Linked DNA regions of Homo sapiens. The protein of the gene in region 1 purifies or fractionates together with the protein of each later gene. This does not show direct contact. Each region holds a gene or a part of one and is shown on either strand. Other genes may lie near its edges.

Region 1 (3,500 bases):
ATCTGAAATGTTATAGTAGTGTTCCGAAAAGGGCATAAGCTTTGGTTTTAGACTAACTTGGGTTTTAATCCTGACTGTCAGGATTAAAAATCTCTCAGCCTCAAATTTTTCATCAATAAAATGAAGATAATACCTACCTCACAATGGTGAATATGTGGCATTAGCTGCTATTATTATTAGTAACAGTTTTAGTCTTACAGGTTGATTCTGGATTTTTGCTTCTATTTATCTGAGTTACGTCTGACTAGTCCTACAGTATAATGTAAGTTTCATTGAATTTTGTATCTTGTTATCTGTATTTAGTTTGCAGATGCTGAAGGTTACTTTGCTGCTTGCACAACAGATACAACTATGAATAGTTCTTTGGTAAGTGCTTCTTTTCTTGTCAGGAATAGAGAGGTGGGGTTGAGCCATGGTAGGAAAAACTGAAACAGGTTTGATGGCAGCAAAGCTGTATTACAACATAGATATGGCTCAATATTGGGTGCCCATCATTAGGATTGTAATTTGGTACTTTTTTTCTCCTTAGGGTTACCTGGGGCCTAGAGGTAAGCAATTTAGCTGCCTCTGAAGAGAGAGGGGAAGGGAAAACTGGTTCAGGAGTGAAAATAATAAAGGACAATCCTTTGTTACTAACCAACTTTTTCACTTCATGCACATTATTATTATCATTTAGAAACAAATATTTTTGACACTGAGACTATATAGGCAAATTATTCGTTTGTTCCACAAATTTTTTACAGTGACAAATCTGTGTTAAACACGTTCTAGGCTCTGAAGATACAGCTTTGTTTTAGTGTGTGAGTGTGTGCGTATTTGCGAGGGGACAGGTAATAAGCAAGTAAAGTAATTGACATAGTCACTTATTTTAAGTATTTGTAATCTAGTTGGAGAGGTAGTATATAAAAATCTTTTTTTAAGATGATCACTCAGGCATCTCTTTTTTTATTTTTTATTTTTAGATTTCTTTTTAGAGACAGGGTTTTGGTCTATTGCCTCTGGTGGAGTACAGTGGCACAATTATGGCTTATTCTAACTTTCAACTGCTGGGCTTAAGCAATCACCTTGTCTCAGCCTCCTAAATACAAGCATACTCCACCACTAACTTTTTATTTTTACTTTTTAGGAACATGGTCTTGCTATGTTGCTCAGGGTGGCATCTCTTTAAAATGTATTTTTAATGATACTTGTTTTCTTTCCAAACATGGCATTTTATCTGAGAAAAATTTTAGTTACTCTAAAATTTAATAGCAATTTGTGAAGCACTGGCTTGGTGACCTTATTCACAGCACAGTTTCTTGTTTGTCTCTCTGTTTTTTAGAACTGCGATGGCATGCAGAGTAGGTTAATAGATACTATGAAGAATTTTTTTTTCCTGGGATCTTAAGCATCAATAAAATAATTTAATATCATTTGTCTCTATCAGTACAGAGGGCAAAGTTGAGATGGCAGCCTGCTCTTCTGGCTACTCTTGTACTAATTCTTACTATTATCTGTAAGATGGATATGTCAAATTGCTCTAGGCCAGATGCCGTAATGAAAACTTCAGTGTAACAAAGAGATTATGTCTATTTCCAGACCCACTGTCCCTTCATTTACTGAATTTTTTTTTGTTGTTGGTAGAGCTCTGTACCAGGAGTTAAAAGAGAAATCAAAGAAATAAAAAAAAGTTCTGTTAATTTTGAAGAATCAGCCTAGTTGGAGATTTGTACCTTAAATATAGATCATCTGAAGAACATTTGCAAAAACAGTTGAGGAATTTATAACTACCTAAAAATATGGACCTTTGGAGCATGGTTAGACAAACCTGGCTTTAATTGTTTTGTCTGCTACCTGATTACTTTATACCTCAGCTTTATTCTCTAAAAGTATAAATATTATTATTATTTTGAGATGGAGTCTCGCTCTGTCACCCAAGCTGGAGTGCAGTGGCGCAATCTCAGCTCACTGCACAACCTCCGTCTCCTGGTTTCAAGCAATTTGCCTACCTCCACCTCATGAGTAGCTGGGATTACAGGCACACACCACCACGCTCAGCTAATTTTTGTATTTTAGTAGAGATGGGGTTTCACCATGTTGGCCAGGCTGGTCTCGAACTCCCGACCTCAAGTGATCTGCCCGCCTCAGCCTCGCCTCCCAAAGTTCTGGGATTACAGGCCTGAACCACTGTGCCGGCCATATTCTATAAAATTATTGTGAGTACTAATGAGAAATATATGTTTAACTGCTCTAGAGTTGGTACTCAATACACAGTAAGAACTGGTAAGTAGTAGCTATTTTGTGTAAAGGTCTTCAAGAATTTTAGTTTTTTATTGAGTTTTACATAATAAGAGGAGACAATTTAGTAAATATAAATACATACTATATACCTGGTTATCAGTTTGTTATCTGCCTTGCCTGTTAGACTGCATGATCACTGAGGAAGAGACTGCTTTTATTCACCCTTCTATCCCCAGGACTTAGAACAGCGTCTGACATAGTAGGAGCTCAGACTCCTACTATGAGCATTTGTTAAATGAATGAAAAGGAATGAGAGAGAATCTGTTAGCTGAGATGGAATCTGTTAGCTAAGAAAGAGATATGTTTTTATGACATTTAAATATTAGATATCATAATATGCCAATGCTGTTACATTACATTGCTAAACTGTAAACTGATTCTTTTCTGTCATTGTAGCTGTATGGATCTGTTGAGTTTCCTTTTTTAAGTCTTGAAAATTGCTGTTTAAACTTGGTGGTGAACAACCACGTTTTAGATGGTATTTGTGTCTACGTACTATCCATTTAAATTTTAACCACTATGTTAGCTTTTATATTTGTTGTTTATATTTTTTTCTGTTACATTCCAGAGTGAACCTCTGTATGTGCCTGTGAAATTCCATGATCTTCCAAGTGAAAAACCTGAGAGCACAAACATTGATACTGAAAAAAGTAAGCAAAACTTGGAAATGGGTAGAAAGTTTACCTTTATTCAAGCCACTTCAGAACTTAGTGATGATGTGGGTTGACTGAAACATGTAGCAGTTCTGCTCCATGTGGTCTTGACTCAGCCTATAGTCTTCTAGAAGTTTGACTGGATTGTGAATCTAATATAGTATAATCATTTTTGTATTATTTCAACTGGAAATAATTTCCAAATACCATAAATCTCTATGGTTTCATCATATATATGTATACACACATACACACATGCATCACACGCTTATATATAAACAAATAATATCCTCTTAAATATGCCCTCAAAGAGCCTAATAGCAAATTATAAGAGTTTTGCTGATTCTGTGAATTTAGTAAAGAATGCCACCTTTAACATAAGGTGCAGTATTTATCCTTAATTTCCCTTGCAAGGAATGGACCTATAGAGAATTGTTCTGCGTGCTTGCCCAAGAAACTAATTCTCGTAAATTGGGTATGCGTGAGGAAAAATCCAAATAAAGTTTTACTAGGAATACTAAAATAGTAAATCAAACTAAAATCCTGAAATAGGCAGTTATGTATATA
Region 2 (3,500 bases), on another chromosome or scaffold:
TAGGCACTTCCCAGGCAGTGCGAGGATGTGATGGAGAAGGGATGAAGTGGAGAGGGGGTGGCGCGGGGTTGGCTCAGCCTAGAACCAGTGCCACACATCCACCTTGAGACTCCAGGGTCTCAGGCTGCATCCAACTGCTCGGCCTGAATCCTGCCGGCCTGAAAGAATCCTGCTGGAGCCACTTGATTACACTCTGCCCTGCCCTACATTCCTGACCCCATATCCCCTCCCTAGCTTGGCCCACTGGGGCGGTGGCTTGGGTTGGGGGTGGGGACACATGCTGAGTTTTAGGGTGGGGCCACACCAGCTTTCTGTTTTCAGCTTAGGGGGAGGTTTCTGGGTTTGGATGACCTCTGCACACATGCCTGGAGTCCCTGCATGTCCACCCCCAGCCCTGCTCTCTAGACTTCACCCCATGTGGGGCTGGGACACCCCTCTCTGGGAGTGAGGGCTGTGTGAGTGGAAGGGAAGAAACCTGGGGTGGGGGAAGGAGGAAAGCAGAACGCAGATCTCTACTAAGTTCATCACAGGCCTCTGAATGTGAGCTCTGAGCCCCCTGGGTATGTCAGGCTGGTCATGCGAAAGGTGCCAGTGACACCCAGCATTTGTACCTGCAGTCACAATTCCCTGCAGTCAGGACACCTGGCTTGGAGAGCTTGGGGTCACGCAGCAGGGGACTGAGAAGAGAAGTTTGTAGGGCCTTTCAGGCTAGGGACTGTGAGAGAAATCGTGGGTGCAGAAATGAGGCTGGGCGTTCACAACACAGTGAGTCCAGGGTGTGGGCTGGGGATGGAACTGGGTGGAGCCACATGCCACATTACAGAGGGATTTCCACTTGGGGAGACAGTCAGGAGAGACTCATTGCAGAGGCTTCAGTGAGGGAGTAAAATGGCCAGAGTGCTATGTTTTTTTGGTCAGCAGGTGGGCAGAGCCGGAAGGGGCTGTCAACACAAATCTCAGTCCAGGAGCAGCTGCAGGTGCTTGAGGCAGACACCTGTGCATATTTGGTTAGCAAATTGCTCTCCCCATCGCTCAGCCAGCCAGCCCGCCAGCCAGCCAGCCATTAGCCCTTCCTGCACAGTGCAGGAGAGCCCTCTTCTCCAGTATGAGTCTAGAAATAGATGATGGGGGTGATATAGGTAATGGGAGGGAAAATTAAGTCTGTGTCTCAAAGATGATGATGATGATGGCAGTGGGTAGACTTTACAGATCACTTACATTGGGTGGCCCTGGCCTTTACCTATGCTCTCACAGCCTGAGGCATAAATACAATTCAGGAAAAGTAGTGGGAAGCATTTAGAACACCAATTTGCTTACCACCTAGACTTAATCATTGTTTACAGTGGTCACATTTGATATTTGTATTTTTTGCTGAAGTATTTTATGATAAATTACATACATTGCATCTTTTTCACCTCTAAATATTTTATTATACATCCCTATGTAACTACAGTGTTGTGATCACACCAATTAATAGTTTCCTAATAGCATTCAGGGCCCAATCCATAGTCAGATGTGCCCATTGTCCTCAGTGGTGTGATCAGAGTTCACTGTAACCTCGAACTCCTGAGCTCAAGCAATCCTCCTGTCTTGGCCTCCCAAAGTGCTGGGATTACAGCCACTGGGCCCAGGTTGTCTGTGTTTGACCGACCATTGGTTTCTTTTTTTTTTTTTTTGAGATGGAGTTTCCCTCTTGTAGCCCAGGCTAGAGTGCAATGGTGCAATCTCGGCTCACTGCAGCCTCTGCCTCCCGGGTTCGAGTGATTCTCCTGCCTCAGCCTCCAGAGTAGCTGGGATTACCAGTGCCAGCCACCACGCCCAGCTAATTTTTGTATTTTTAGTAGAGACGGGTTTCACCATGTTGGGCAGGCTGGTCTTGAACTCCTAACCTCAGGTGATCTGCCCGCCTCAGCCTCCCAAAGTGTTGGGATTACAGGCGTGAGCCACCACGCCGGGCCTGACCATTGGTTTCTTTAAATCAGGATCCTAGGCCAGGCGCAGTGGCTCATGCCTGTAATCCCAGCTCTTTGGGAGGCTGAGGCAGGCGGATCACGAGGTCAAGAGATCAAGACCATCCTGGCCAACGTGGTGAAACTCCGTCTCTACTAAAAATACAAGAATTAGCTGGGCATCGTGGCACATGCCTGTGGTCCCAGCTACTCGGGAGGCTGAGGCAGGAGAATCACTTGAACCCGGGAGGTGGGGGTTGCAGTGAGCTGAGATCGTGCCACTGCACTCCAGCCTGGCAACAGAGTGAGACTCCGTCAAAAAAAAAGAAAAACCATCGAGATCCTGTCAAGGTACTCGTGTTACATTTTCTTATGCCTCTTCAGTTTCCTTTAATCTAAAACAGCGCCCCGCCCTCATCTCCTTTTCCACCATGAACACTGAGTTTCTGGCAAGGCGGGGTTGTGGTGTAGGCTGCTTCACTTTCTGGATTGATTTGTCAGGGCTGCCTTTGTTGCTTTGTTTCCCAGAGAGCTCTGCGGAGGTTTGGAGCCAGGGCGAGTTGGCCTGAGGGTCTGCCCTGCTGAGGGTCCTACAGCCTCAGTTACTCTGTCAAGTGAGAAAGACTGAGAGAGTCCAGTTCTGGGTTATGGAGAGTGGGAGACAAGCCTGGGGCTGGCAGGCCAAATATATGAGGCAAGGGCTGGCTGGCGGCCCATGGTTGCACCTTTTCTCCCTCTCTTCCCAGCTTTCCCTTTGGTCTCCTGCTCCCTGTCTTTCTTCTCCTTGGCCTTACAGATATGTCCTCCCATGCACCCAGCACCGCTGTAGAGACCCCAGGACTTGTCAGACAGCCCGCCTGACCCTGACAGCCAGAAACCCAGGCCTGTGGCAGAGGCAGGGTGGCACACTGGCCCCGACCTTTATTTCTACTGGGCCAAGTTTAGTTGTTCTTGCTATCTCCATTCTTCCTGGAGAGACTATTTGGGTTCTCTGCGTGTGCGGCTTATTGTCCTTTCTAGACTTTAAGCTTTCTGAAGGCTTTAGCTGTACTTGTTTTAAAATTCTATATATTCCATATACTGTCTGGCCCCCCGTTGGTTGGCACAGGGTGGATTCTTGGTAAAGATATGTAGAGGTAAAGGAAATGGTTGCTTTTGCAGGGATGCAGGAGTTAATTTCTTTTCTCTGATGAGCCAGGAGCCCCAACCAGTGAATCTGGGTTTCTCTCTTAACATTCCGCCTAGTAGGTGTGACTTTGGCTATCTGGAGAAAGGGCCCCCCAGGCTTCCCACCCACCACCAGCCCATCCCAGTGTTCTGACAGTGCCTGCTGTTGGAGTGGCCTCCTTGGGGCTGGCCTGCATCTGTGGAGTGGTGGCCAGTTGTAGGGTCTAGCCCTACGGGGCTTAGTGGGTGTTCTCCCCATGTGCGGAGATGAGAGATTGTAATAAATAAAAGCACAAGACAAAGAGATAAAGAAAAAACACCTGGGCCGGGGTGACCACTACCATCAAGACGCGGAGACCAGTAGTGGCCCTGAACGGCTGGGGT
Region 3 (3,500 bases), on another chromosome or scaffold:
GCACCTTCCAGAGCAGCAGCCCAAGCCACACCTGAGCCGCACCTGGGGTGGCCAAGGAGCACCGCAGAATGCAGGAAGCAGAGGCTCGAGGTGGCCCTGGGCAACTAGACCCATAGACCTGCTGGCGGGGTATGGTCCTCTCCCTCCTGCCCTCATGGTCCAGGCACTCTGGGCCTGTGACAGGAGGAGCAGTCCCAAAGACCTCCCAAATCCCTTTAAGGTCATTCTTCCCAGCAGCCTTTTTATTCTTTATGATCTAGCCAGGCTGAAAATTTTCCAAATCTTTCTAAGTTCTGCTTCCCTTTTGATTATAATTTCTGTCTTTAATTTGTTTTCTTCTTGCATTTTCTTATAAGCAATCAAGAGAAGCCATGCAGCACCCTGCACACTCTGCTTAGATATTTCTTCCACCAAATATCCTAGTTCATCACTCTTCATCTAGTTCATCATCTATCCTCCACAAAGCATTAGGGCACAGACACAACTGACCCACGTTCTCTGCCATTTTATAAATAAAAACAGAATGGGCTTTTCTCTAGTTCCCAATAAAATATTCCTCATTTCTGTCTAAGACCTCATCAAAATGACCTTTGCTGTCCATACTTCCACCAACATTCTGATCATGACCACTTAAGTAATCTCTAAGAAGATTCAGGTTCTGTCTACAGCTCTGTTCTTCTAAGCCCTCACCAAAATAATCCTTAATGCTTAGTTTATCACTATCTAGGCTTTTTCCAGCATGTACCTCCAAACTCTTCCAGCCTCTACCCTTTACCCAGTTCCAAAGCCAACTCTGCATTTTCAGGGATCTGTTATACCAACACTCCACTTCTTGGTACCAATTTCTATCTTAGTCCCTTTGTGCCTCTGTTGGGAACAGGCCCCCCAAAATCTAGCCATAAACTGGCCCCAAAACTGACCATAAACAAAATCTCTGCAGCACTGTGAAATGTTCATGATGGCCGTAACGCCCACGCTGGAAGGTTGTGGGTTTACTGGAATGAAGGCAAGGAACACCTGGCCCGCCCAGGGCAGAAAACTGCTTAAAGGTGTCCTTAAACCACAAACAGCATGAGCGATCTGTGCCTTAAGGGCATGTTCCTGCTGCAGATAACTAGCCAGACCCACCCCTTTATTTCGGCCCATCCCTTCCTTTCCCATAAGGGATACTTTTAGTTAATGAATATCTATAGAAACAATGCTAATGACTGGCTTGCTGTTAATAAATTCGTGGGTAAATCTTTGTTCGGGGCTCTCAGCACTGAACACGGATACTTCCTCGATATCTATGCTATGGCATCAGTGAGCAGTGTTCATGTTACTGGGCCATCTCCATCCCTCCCATTGAGAAGAAAATGTGTGTCACGTAAAGAAGCACTTAAATCCATCTCTGTCACTTGCTTAGTTTATTACCCTGCTCCGTAGGTACCAACTGCACTCTGTTGCTGCTAAAACGACCACTGGCCTCTAATACTCAGGACAGTTGAGTTTGGATAGCCTAGTTTCTCTACTGAGAAGACAATTCCATAAAGAATAAGGGTAGAAGACCCAACTTACAGTTCTTTTTCAGGCTTTTCAGCCACCTTTGGTCTGGATGGGGACGATCATTTCCAACAGTCTCTAGCTGGTCTCCCGCAGCTCCCTGCCCAGTTCACCCTCTGCCTTGCAGGAGTGACTTACGCTGTTTTCCTGTAGGGTAAAGTCCAAACTCCTAGCCTGATAAACAGGGTCTTCCACAGACCTTCCAGCCTTCCACTCTTCCAGCCTTGCCACGCCCCTCACAGTCCCCTAAATGCCTCTTTCCATTTCCAGTCCTCTGGACCTTTATACATGCTGGTCTCTGCCTTCAATGCCCTTCTCTCCATGCTCCTGTGTGCCCAATCAATGCCTGCTCTTCCTGAAAGACCCACTCGAGCACCACCTCCCACTGAAGGAATTTTTCTGCCCCTTCTGTGGGTGCTGTACCATGTAGACAGCTCTGTCCCAGCATGCATCCAGCACAGGGGCTGACCTCTCTTCATCTATGCATCCCCCTGCTTGGCCCAGTACCAGGCAAACAGAAAGTGCTCCATAATGTTTGTGGACTGAAGGCTGAATGACCAGGTCACTGCTGCCCCACAGAGAGGCCTCTGAAGAGAAAACAATGTGGAGAAATCATGTCGAGAATCCATTCATTCAAGAACAACTGTGGTGCACCTACATGTGGGAAATAGTTTTTTAAACGGTAAAAACCCGGTTCCCATTTCAAGAAGCACAGAGTTGCAAATAAAAGCTATATTCATTAAATAATCATACCAGGTGGTATGACCAAGTGTCAAGTAAGTTTTGACAATAAAAAATCGCTGAGAAAGTCAGGCAGGCCTGGCTAGGACTCAATCCTAGATCTGCCTCTTATAAGCAAGGTACATCGGGCAAGTTACTTAACTTGTGTCTGGCTCAGTTTCCCCATCTGTAAAGCAATGATGAACTCTGATCTCCTGTTCTATCACTCCCACTCCTTCCCTCTGCCACAGCCACTCTGGCTTTCCTATTGTTCCCCAAACTCTAACATCATGTCTTCTGTACTGTTTCCACTCACGACACTTCTGACACCAAATGTGTGGGGTTTTTCTTCACACCAACCAATGCTCTCTCTCCAGACACTAACTGGGTGCCCTACAATTCAATTCAATTCCGACACCAACCATCTGGAGTTAGCACGGACCCCACAGGTAAGGGCTCAGGCCCACAAGACCACAAGAATGCCCACACTTCACATGCCAGTCGCTGGGTCTGGGCCATCTGTACTCCTGACCAACTGTAAAGTCAGGAGGTTCCTACAATTACCTCCTCAGGTTGGGTAATTTGCTAGAACAGCTCGCAGAACTTAGGAAAGCACTTTATTTAATATCACCAGTTTATTATACAAAATACAGCTAAGAAACCACCACATGGAAAAGATAGGGCAAAATATGGGAATGGAGGTTTCCAGGAGCTTCCATATCCTTTCCAGGAACCACCTTCCCAGCACCTTGATGTGTTCACTAACAGGAAGCTCTCCAAAACCCATCATTTAGGGTTTTTAAGAAAGCTCTATTTGTGATCCACTGCATTGGTTAAAAAAAAAAAGGCCAGGCACAGTGGCCTCACGCCTGTAATTCCAACACTTTGGGAGGCCGAGGTGGGCGGATCACGAGATCAAGAGATAGAGATGACCCTGACCAACATGGTGAAACCCCGTCTCCACTAAAAATACAAAAATTAGCTGGGTGTGGTGGCGTGCGCCTGTAATCCCAGCTACTCAGGAGGCTGAGGCCGGAGAATCACTTGAGCCCGGGAGGCACAGGTTGCAGTGAACCGAGATCCCGCCACTGCACTCCAGCCTAGCAACAGAGTGAGACTACCTCTCAAAAAACTAAATAAATAAAAATTTAAAGAAAGCTCTATTCTGCCGGCATCACTGATTAGATCATTGTCCACTGGTGATTGGCACAATCTCCAGAGGTTGGAGCACGGGGCTG
Region 4 (3,016 bases), on another chromosome or scaffold:
GTAAGTAAAGGGGTCATCAAGCTTGTACATGATTAAGAACAAGTTTGCACTGGAATGTTTGGTAAACTACAGTGTTTCTTTAAAATTACACCTACACTTCATTGGATGGCTAAAAACGATTAGAAAAGAATGATGATGAGTAATTTGGTTAAGAAAGCTTGGTCCAGGGTGGGGACTGTACAAGTCAGGATTAATCTCAACTGGGCTACTGTACCCCTGTGCTTATCTCCAAGAATACCAGGATCCATGGTGCTGATGTTTAGCCAAACCTGAATGAAGTATTAACTAGTGATGAATTCTGGGCCTGGGCTAGAGACTACGATAAACCAGGGGGCAACCTTGGGCTGGCTTGCCAGCATTGTTTAATAGAAAATGTAAAGATTGATTTTACATTTTTCACCTGGTTTCTGTCATGTTCCCTTGGTTTCTGCAGTTGAGCCTGGTCATGCTGGTCATGCAGCCCAATTTTGCCTACCTGACCAGAGAGGCATAAAAGACCTCTCCTTGAACAAGAATCAGGTTCTCCTGGGAGCTATGCCTAGAAGTTCTGGACCCCTCTAATGTTTCCCTGTGCCTGCTTTCTCCTTGCATACTGTGACCTCTACCTTTAATTAATGCCTGTTAGCCACAAGAATCCCAATTATATGACCCATATACCATCTCATTTTGAAAAAAATATGAGTTGTGGCTTTTGTTTTATTTATTCTCAGAGATGGCCATCTAGGACATGTATTCAGCCAACAATATTTGCTCAGCTTATACATCACAGAGTTGTGTTACAAAGCCATCATTCCTCTGTCCTTTGATGAATCCTCAAATTACTTTGTTCTAGAATAAACTTTTTTATATTACAAAAGAAATCTCATGAATTTACCTTCAGGTTCACGATACATACAAGAAATTAGCAAATCGCTAATAGAGAAGTTTTGGCTGTTGTGATTGGGTTCCAACATTGTAACTGTGACTTTTATTCCTGATGTTGACAATGTGGAATGAGATGTATTAACTTATAAATACTGTGTTGCTCAAGTGAGACTAAAAGCACAATCCATGCCACCTGCACCATAGCCCACTTTCAGCATAAAGAAACTCGAATGTATTCTTCAAGTAGTACACATCCTACATTGGAAGAATGTTGTTCTAAGATTTTATAGGTAACTGTTGCTCCTGTGAAATTTGACAGTGAGATTCCTTCTATTTTTAGTGTAATAGGAAATGGCACCAATAGTATGCCATAGTATATATTTTGGGGGACAAAAATACTATGCTCATTTCACCACTTTATTCCTCTTTATTTCATGCAATTTTAGGTAGATGTGTATACTAAAATCCAACAGTATCCCAAAGAAAGACTGTTAAGAATAACAAAAAAACTAGCATATTAATCTCTTTTCTTGGGAATATTGAATATATTTCTTGTTACTTGTATCTAAGTTCTGACTCTGATTTTTACAGGGGAAACAAGGCAAACACATTTTATATGGCTGCAGTGAGCTTTTTAATGCTACACAGTTCATAAAACAGGTAAAGTATACATTTGTTGTTTGTTTCTGTTAACATACCCCTAGTTGCTATTGGTATTTTTCAAAAGAGAGAAAGAAAACCACTTACTCACCTGAACCAGCCGAAACCAAAGCCATCCAGCTATACCAAGATAAGGTGTTTTCATGGACGACTAAGAAAACCTTGATAAGTAATAATGTTTCCAGTAGGAGTTTGCCCATCCTTCCAGAACTGAAAGCCTTTTCTTTGGCTTTTAATGATCCTTTAGAAATACAAAAATATATGAGAACTGTCAGTAGTGTGTCACTCATGACATTTCTCTTTATATTGTCACAAAGTTAGCACTAATTTTTTTAATTCCCAGGGTTTTTCTTTTCCATCAATTGAACGTTACCTAATAATGTTTACATTTCTTTACTATGACGACGTTTATTGCAATTCCATTTTCTTTTCTTTTTCTTGGTAGAGACAGTCTCTTGCTATGTTGCCAAGGCTGGTCTCAAACTCCTGGCCTCAAGTGATCCTCCCACCTCAGCCTCCCAAATAGCTAGGATTACAGGCATGAGCCACCATGACCAGCCTTCAGTTTTAACATTTGAGTTAGTGGTGAACATTAAGATTTATTATTCTAGGAATGCAGTGAATAAAATAGGAAGTGTAATTTATTAAGGGGTTTACAAATATGTTTGAATGTTTCTTTTATGATCTTTTTTAAAAGTTTTATGTATGATTTTGTGTTTTGTTTTAGTTGTCACAACTTGGACAAAAGTAACACAGAAGAACCTTACTATGATAATCTACTTGGAATGTGGATAAATGTAAAAAGAAGAAAAGTTAGAAGAGCAATATGTTTCCTTCTCTGTAACAGTGTCCTAACAGTGAAAATCAGAGTTATTTGTTAATTTTTAAGGAAATTATATACTTAATATGTATTGATTAAAAGAAACATTTCAGAAATAAAATTTCAACATTGTTCATTTTCTCTGATAAATCAGAAAGTACTAATATAATAACTAATAGGTTATGATTGAAGCTGGTGACATTTTAAGGTTATCATATTTAAATTTTATTTGATTGGTTCGTGAGTCCCCTACTTGTATGCATTTTAATTATACAACTACTTTCTCATAGTTTGTTGGGTATCCATGTTGCCTATAGATTTTAGATGGAGATTTTAAGCCACTTTAAGTTCCCTTCTTCTGGCACACCTATGTATATTTTATCACATAAAGTCCCTCCTTCATGTAATGGTGATCAAGGCAACACTAACATGATTTGGAATGGACAAATACAAAACAGTCATCTCATAAAGTTGTAAATAATACGTAAAAGTTAGTGTTAAACTTGATTCCAAGCTTCTTTGGTATGCAGTACTGACAAGAAGTATTGATCAGTCATACCGTTCAGTACGTCTGTAAGATAAAAAGCAAGCCAATTGCTTGAAAGGGAAGAAAAATAAACACTTCCTATTATAAAGGCCAGGGAGCCTTCCCTCCTAATGAGCCTCATATCA

Evidence for each region.
Region 2: the proteins of SLC35F5 (region 1) and ITPR3 purify together in Homo sapiens (affinity purification with mass spectrometry; one large-scale study listed by BioGRID and IntAct). This does not show direct contact.
Region 3: the proteins of SLC35F5 (region 1) and ATP7B purify together in Homo sapiens (affinity purification with mass spectrometry; one large-scale study listed by BioGRID and IntAct). This does not show direct contact.
Region 4: the proteins of SLC35F5 (region 1) and SCFD1 purify together in Homo sapiens (affinity purification with mass spectrometry; one large-scale study listed by BioGRID and IntAct). This does not show direct contact.

The regions. Positions count from the first base shown.
Region 1 is NC_000002.12:113,743,143-113,746,642, reverse strand, and holds part of SLC35F5 (solute carrier family 35 member F5), read left to right. Parts: intron 1-303; coding exon 304-366; intron 367-2,848; coding exon 2,849-2,930; intron 2,931-3,500.
Region 2 is NC_000006.12:33,627,822-33,631,321, forward strand, and holds part of ITPR3 (inositol 1,4,5-trisphosphate-gated calcium channel ITPR3), read left to right. Parts: intron 1-2,216; exon of another isoform or gene 2,217-2,563; intron 2,564-3,422; exon of another isoform or gene 3,423-3,500.
Region 3 is NC_000013.11:52,004,951-52,008,450, forward strand, and holds part of ATP7B (copper-transporting ATPase 2), read right to left. Parts: intron 1-3,500. UniProt on the Homo sapiens protein: Copper ion transmembrane transporter involved in the export of copper out of the cells. It is involved in copper homeostasis in the liver, where it ensures the efflux of copper from hepatocytes into the bile in response to copper overload.
Region 4 is NC_000014.9:30,733,335-30,736,350, forward strand, and holds the end of SCFD1 (sec1 family domain-containing protein 1), read left to right. Parts: intron 1-1,455; coding exon 1,456-1,524; intron 1,525-2,251; coding exon 2,252-2,275; 3' UTR 2,276-2,516; downstream 2,517-3,016. UniProt on the Homo sapiens protein: Plays a role in SNARE-pin assembly and Golgi-to-ER retrograde transport via its interaction with COG4. Involved in vesicular transport between the endoplasmic reticulum and the Golgi.